Linked DNA regions of Homo sapiens. The protein of the gene in region 2 interacts with the protein of the main gene of each other region in a pairwise test. Each region holds a gene or a part of one and is shown on either strand. Other genes may lie near its edges. The genes, in order: CTXN3 and BTN2A1.

Evidence for each region.
Region 1: the proteins of BTN2A1 (region 2) and CTXN3 interact in binary tests that used the Homo sapiens proteins (3 or more experiments, as listed by UniProt).

What each region holds. Positions count from the first base shown.
Region 1 is NC_000005.10:127,652,082-127,655,900, forward strand, and holds part of CTXN3 (cortexin-3), read left to right. Parts: intron 1-171; exon of another isoform or gene 172-280; intron 281-968; exon of another isoform or gene 969-1,110; intron 1,111-1,235; 5' UTR 1,236-1,342; intron 1,343-3,819.
Region 2 is NC_000006.12:26,464,351-26,468,169, reverse strand, and holds part of BTN2A1 (butyrophilin subfamily 2 member A1 isoform 1 precursor), read right to left. Parts: intron 2,986-3,819; coding exon 2,764-2,985; intron 2,218-2,763; coding exon 2,197-2,217; intron 2,109-2,196; coding exon 2,082-2,108; intron 452-2,081; coding exon of another isoform or gene 429-451; exon of another isoform or gene 223-428; coding exon 1-222.

The DNA.
Region 1 (3,819 bases), on a different chromosome or scaffold from region 2:
TAACTTTCAATTTCTGGCTGATTTTTATATTTCAGATTCCACCCATCAACACGGAGGCCAAGGAAAATTTAATGAGCCAAATAACTTATGGCTCTTCAAATTACAAGATCTGTGGGTTTTAAAGTGTCATTGTGACTTGAACTAGCTGTCTTTCTTTCAAACAAGACTTACTTCAAATGTGATGGTCCAGCACCTCAGTCCGGCTTGATGACTTGTGCTTTTGTTTTTCCTCTCTGCATCAGTTAGCTGGCACCTCGGGTTTTGAATTCAGTTCCCTGGACTGTAAGGGGTTGAAGATTTGATTTAACTTATATTTAAAAAGGCAATGATCCCAGAACAGCAAATAATTCCTCAAGGAGCTTATTGTGTAATAAGGAGGAGATAAACACTGTCAAGACTCGCACTGTAATCAGTGCTGCCACCGAGTACAGGTGATGTCTCTGGAGATGGAGTAAAAAACACCCCATCCTTGGTGAAGGGAAACAAAGAAGGCCCCACCGAGAAGTGGGTATTTGGTGTGAACCCTAAGGGAGGGAGAGATGGAAAGAAGGAGAGGAAAGATGCTTGCCTCATAGTGCTTGCCTCCCCTCCTCTCCACAGATGGAAAGAAGGAGAGGAGGCAAGTATTATGAGGTAGGAAACCTGGAGGTGTTAGAGCACAGCAGGTATTGGATCAAGCTGAAAAACAGACAAAATGAGGACATTCTCCACAGGTGTCCACAGACTCAGTTACACGGAAGTTTATTCTGATCAACACATTGGCCATTTTACTGAGAACTAAATGTGATTTGGTGTTGACTCCTTTCTAAACTTATAAAAATAAAACTCAGATCTTAAAAATTCCATTGTCAGCATAGGTCCTAATCTGTGGTCCGGAAAACATCTGGGCATCAGGCCCACAAGGGGGTTAATGGGCTGTGGACACTGGGGTGCAAAGGTTTTCTGAGGGGAAGAGTGGTGAGATCTGGGCTTAAAAAGATGAATCGAGATGCAGTGTGTAGGAAGCATGGGCAAGGGATGAGGAACGCCACTTTGAAAATTACTAAAACTAAAGCAAGTGACTAAGAGTGTGAATGACCCTGGCTGCAATGACTACGCCTGCTGGGCTTCGTAAGTAATTATGGGTGTCTTCTGTTTTTGTCAGTATCACAAGGGAGCTTGACTCGAGCAAGGGAATGTATTATATGACTTTTGAAAAGGGTATCTTTTAATTAAGGTTTTCTTTAATTTTTCAGTATTAAAATTAGACTCTATTTCCTGAGCACCCACAAATGGACCTGACAAAGGGAAGACACAGATGTACTGCGTGATGAGGAAAGCCTATCAGGATTAAAATATGGCTGTGAGTAACTGTGGTCCTTCTTTATACTTAAAATAGCTGCCATGTGTTATTATGAAGGCTTCTGATGGTGGTATCAAAATCCTTTGAAATAATAGACTTGCACAGATTTCCCTGGTCATCTAAAAGAAAGATGTCATTATTCAGTTAAAAGCAAACTTGCACATTTTCTAAGAATCATTTTTACCAAAAAGGGACATTTTACTGCGAGACAGACATTTAAAAATTTACATGTCTTGAGATATTTTTGTATTGTGGTAGCAAAATGATTACATTTATTTCTTTTTCTCCACCTTATAATAGCTGATGCTTCCTTCAACTTATACATGCTGTTGGAGCTTTCTAAATCGGTAAATTATTGATTAGCTGATTGCAGGTTTAAAATCAAGCAGACTCTTCCAGGGATTTCAATCAGTCCTGGGCAAAATTGTGAATTAGTCAGCATTGGTTTCTGGATCTCTTTATCCCTTTAGCAACCACCTCCTGATTGTCTCTACCCACCATCCCTCATCCCTCCCCTAGGGCTCTCCAGTGGGCCCCCTGTTCACACCACCATGCCTGTCTTCCTGTCCTGTCCAGGAGTCCCTCATTCCCAGCTAGGTCTTCCTTCAATCGCCTTTCTACTTACCACACTTTCCCCTCCTTCAGGTGGGAACGGTCCTCACAAATTCCTGCTAGCACATTAATGTGCCACTTTCCTAGGTAAAATATTGCAATTTAGTAGGAGACGTTGATACTTTGACCAAAAGCAGTTATTTTTATAGGAACTTGGGCACCACAGTGTGCTGGGAGAGGAGAGGATTACAACTCCCAATGTGCTACAGAGTTTTAAAAATTCTTTCACCTCTATTTGCTCATAATTTGGTATATCAGGAAAGGTTTGGTGATGAAGACATTGGAGTATACACATATTTATATTTTAGGAGGCTTCTCAATGCAAAGAGGGTTAACCTTTCCTTTGTACCTTGCCTTTTAATCAGTAGAGGATGGTAAAACTTCAAATTAAAACTGATTTTAAAAATCATTCTAATACTTGGCATCCTCGTGCAGAATCTGAGTCCCAGAGTCATTCCTAGGGTGACTGAAGAGGCAGATATGGCAGATAATCTGAATCAGGATGAATAAGTTATTTGCTGGAATTTCTGGAATGGTTGCCTACCACTGCAGCCCCCAAATGAATGGTTTGCTCGCTGTAAATCCTGAGTTGTGGGTGAAGCCTAGAAAGTATGAGAGTTGATCCAGGAGAGAAGGATTTGGCATTTGCCCTGTATGGAAGAGAAGGCTGGGGAAGACTACTCCTGGGGTCACAATGTTGCTCATCAAGTGGAGATCCCCGGTGGGAAGGGAGGGACTGAGCAAGGTATCACCGTCCTAGTCAGCCTGCTTGTGCTGAGGAGGTCATTCTCAAGGACTCAAAAGGTTCTCTATCTAGTTCTTACCTGAATTTTTGGATTTCACAGATCCAGAAATCCTTACATCAGTTATACAGTTAATGGTCTTTTCTCTTCTTATATTTCCTTTTTGGATTATATGGTGTTTTCCTAAAGAACTTTCTGAAAATGGCCAGGCATGGTGGCTCATGCCTGTAATCCCAGCACTTTGGGAGGCTGAGGTGGGTGGATCACCTGAGGTCAGGAGTTCAAGACCAGCCTGACCAACATGGAGAAACCCCGTCTCTACTAAAAATACAAAATTAGCTGGGCGTGGTGGTGCATGCCTGTAATCCCAGCTACTAGGGAGGCTGAGGCAGGAGAATCACTTGAACCTGGGAGGCGGAGGTTGTGGTGAGCTGAGATCGCACCATTGCACTCCACCTTGGGCAACAAGAGCGAAACTCCGTCTCAAAATAAAAAAAAAGACTTTCTGAAAATGCATACCTGTCTCGGCTTTGTTGAGAATGGACAAAGAACAGGACTCTGGCCTCATTTGGGCTGGATGGAAAAAGGGCATAGAATGAGATTCTGATAATCCTGCAAGGAGAGCAGGAATCAAAGTGAGAGGATCCTCAGTAGGATATGAAAAAGCAAGGAGTATGTCAGGGATGGCCTCAGCATCTGCTCCTCTGTCATCAGCGGGCTTTCCTTTGGCCCAGCCCTTGGAGAATTTTATATTTCATATGATTAAGTATAGTTTGAATATTTTTGGTGGACACAGATGGCCCTGGTCTGATGTGCTGAGGAGACCTGCATTGGAGGCTCTGGCCTCCCTTCCTGCCCCTCCCTTCCTGGCCCACAAGGAATTAATACCCAAGGCTAGGAGGGTGCTTAGAAACAAGCAAACCAAAACAAAACCCAGTGCATTAATATCCTCTAAATTCCTAAAGAGCTTATTTTTTTAAAATGCGGTCAAATTTTTATCCCAATCTTACTTCCAAACAAACATGAATTATAAATGAGTTTTGCAACTGTTATAGCCTTTAAAAAAATTCAAAGTGATAGAGCTGCAAAAATGATGCATTACCCGACTGGTAACTCCTTCCT
Region 2 (3,819 bases):
CCCCCACAGTCCACTCAATCACGTTTTCCACCTCCACCTCCCAGTAATGTTTCCCTGAAGCGAAGCTCTCCCGGCCTAGGACACAAGGCTGACTGTCGAATCTCTCTGGGTTGTCAGGCACGCTCTCCCCTAGGTGCCTGAAGGGGCACCTTCTCACACTTCTCCGGTCCTCTGACAGGAAGAGATCGGGATGAGCGGTGTCTGGATCCAGGACCACATCAACTGCAGAGGAAGTCTCAGGTTTAGGCCTGGGGTCTCAGGAACCCTGGGGATTGTGTGGTTCCTGATCCCCAGAGAGGTCTCAGATATCTCTGAAGGGATCCCCACGTAGTGGCCACTTCCATGAAGGCTCTCTGATCCTAGGCAGCTCACACACTGAGAATTACTGAAGCTGCACTTCTGTCTCTCCAGAGACAGAAGCAGTTCTCTCAGTTTGAGAAGAATTGGAGCTCTAAGAAATCCGGAAAGTTTAGCAAATGAAGTAAAATCAATCATTCTTATACTTTCTCTCAGCATTCTAAGATGTGTTCCCTTTTCTATCCAAGACATATGATCTCTGGCCAGGCGTGGTGACTCACGCCTGTAATCCCAGAACTTTGGGAGGCTGAGGCAGGTGGATCACCTGAGGTCAGGAGTTCGAGACCAGCCTGGACAACATGGTGAAACCCCATCTCTACTAAAAATACAAAAATTAGCCGGGCATGGTGGTGCACACCTGTAATCCCAGCTACTCAGGAGGCTGAGGCACGAGAATTGCTTGAACCCGGGAGGCAGAGGTTGCAGTGAGCCCAGATTGTGCCATGGCACTCCAGCCTGGGTGACAGAGCAAGACATCATCTCAAAACAAAACAAAACAAAACCCCAAATGAAGACCTATGATCTCTGGGATTTTCTTTACTTAGAAACTTTCCAACTTGGCTTAAACCAGCACAAAGGCTTTATGTCCTGCTCCTCCTCTCCCCGGTGGATCAACTAAGGTGAGTCTTTCCCTTCACACTGTCCTGGAGGATAAAGGGTCTCTTCATTGGTCCTATGTGTTCCTTTTACCAGATCACAACTGACTTAAATGACTAACAAGGGCACCCTTCAAAAAATGAAGAAGGAGAATAAATGTCCCCAAAAGAAAACCTGTTGCCTGAGGGGTCTGTGGGCAAATGTAGGGAGTAACTATTCCCATCCAGTTTTGCTTCAACAACATGGGTCTGATGTCTTCACATATCACTTCTGTAGGTACAAGAAATGCTCCAGACTCCGGGCATTCTGCAGACCTCTCCCATCTGTATTTATTCTTACTTATTCAGTCTACTTTTCTATTGTGTTAAAATGATTTCCTCCATTCCCCAAGTTAATATGTCTGGCTGTGACAATTTGCTATTTTGTCCCAAGTTGACAGTGGCAATTTTGAAATTCACCTAAAGAGGAAAGGTCCATGTGCCATGGTATCTGGTAAAGCTTGGATTCTGTGGTGCTTATGGGCAGAGGGGCTGAATCATAAGATGAAAAGTGCTCACTGGGAGTGGGCAATTGGGTTCTGTGCTCTCCCACCCACCTGAAATCCCTCCCACGGCAGGCTATACACAAAGTATTAGTGTTCTCTTAAGAGCAGAAAGGCATTTCTGGCCACCTATTGGTACACCCTTATGTCAGGCTTACTAGGGACCCTCCTGGCCTCTTCCCTACATGGGTCTTCAACTTGGCACAGTCTACACCATCCCCAGGATATAAGCTGCTAAGATAGCATTGTCTTTTTTCAAATTCATCCAGGATCAAAGAACAACAACTACTGAAATGTAACTCTTAGGAAGGCTACTATATATGGGACACCTCTGGTAATCATGCATTAAATTACTCCAAAAGATAAAGGATCCTGGGATGTAAACCATAGGGTGGATTGAGAGCTGCTGGGATTCCCTGACAGAAGAGACATGATGCATCATTGCTGGGACACTGTTGATGAACTGACCCCCGTTCCCTGCTGTCCCCACCTTGCCCTGGGCCCCTTGCTCATCTCCTCTAAGGAGTCCTGTTAGCTGGCTAGTGTGGAGAAAGCTGAGATCTGAGGGAACATCAGAGGCACTCACCAGCATGTAAGAATGTTCTTCTCCATCCTGCAAGGGACAGACAGAGACGAATGTCATGAGATGTTGCTGAGCAGAACTCAAATTGTACATGTAGTTAAGGAAAGGCTAAACTTACGCAATTCTTCTTGAAGTTTCTCTGAAAAACAAACAAAGAAAATCATGTCTTTGACAGAAGAACTAAAAGAAGTTGGGTTTTTAGTAAACAATGCAGGAACCGTCCTTTCTATGAACAGCAACATCTCCCTTCCCTCATGCCTAGGGCACTGTCAGAAACCAGAAATTATGTATGATCAGGTGGCTGGGTAGTACCAGCACATTGTTACACTTGCTTTTGCTCAACCATTTAGTACTTTATGTAGCCAGATGAATGAATGCAAGGTGGGCAGAGTGAAAGAATGAAAGCTCTGAGAGATTCATTCCAAGGACATGAGAGTTCCAAGTCCTTGCTGCTGCTGTGCATTTCCTCTCTCTTCTGTATGCTGGTACCTGGGAGAGCTGTGTCCTTTCTATGGTGGTGAACTGTCCTTCTACTCTTTTTCTTTTCTTTTTTTTTTTAATTAAACAGGGTCTCACTTTATCGCCCAGGCTGGTCTCGAACTCCAGGGCTCAAGTGATCTGCCTGCCTCAGCCTCCCACAGTGCTGGGATTCAAGCCATGAGCCACCATACTCAGCCTCTTTTACCTTTTACTTGAAGTTCTTCCTCTTTTTGCACACGTTCTTTCTCCAGTTCCTTTAGAGCAATTTCTCTTGTTTCCCGTTCAAACTCCTTTTCCCCTGACAGAATCTTTTTTTCCTTTTGGAGTTTGTTGATCCAATAGATGCATACGGCAATGGGTATCATCAGAATAACCACAATGATAGGCAGGGCCACTGCACAGGGAGACACACTGGGCATAAAGGATTCTGAAAAGGCAGCCAGAAATATCCACTTAGTTTGAAACAGAACATCTGGGGTAAGAGTGCCCCTAGGAGCACACTTGAAGAGCTCCTCAGCCACCTGCTCTCCTGCTTTCTCCCTCAGAAAACTCAGATGGAGAAAGTGATGCTGGCTCACACCTGGCTGACACCTCAATGGCTTCCAGGGCCAAGGCCCAGAGGTAGCAAACCAGTCACCATGGGAAGGACCAGGATGAATAAAGCTAACCCGTCATGCTGAGTCGGCACAGCCACCACCCTGCCTCAAGCTACCATCACTCACGCCTGGAATACTGCGGTGCCCTCCTTCTTATTCTGCCCTTACCTTCTGTAGTCTATTTTCAACAGACCAGCCCTAGTGTGATCATGATACTTCTTAGCTCAAAACCTTCCAACGCTTTCCACGTCACTCGCCCTAAAAACCAAAGACTGTTTGTGGCTTACAATGCCATGTTTAATGTGTTTTCATTGCCTCTGTGAATTCATCTCCTTTCACTTCCTGCACTCACTCCATTTCAGCCACACCAGCATCACCTTCTGGGGGTCCTGGAAACTGCCAGAGATGTTCCTTCCCCAGGCCCTTTGCATATGCTCTTCCTGTAGCTGGGTTGTTCAGTCCTTAAGCATCTGATGACTCCTTGCCATCAGATGGGATGGCTCAATTCCCATCTTTACAGTGAAGTCTTCCCTGACCATTCTGTTAAGAATTGCAATGTCTCACATTGCCTCTTTATTCCTTCCTTGCTTAATGTTTCCTATAGATGTTCATTACCATCTGATAGAATATATGGTTAGCTAACTAATCACTTTTTGAGGGAAGAG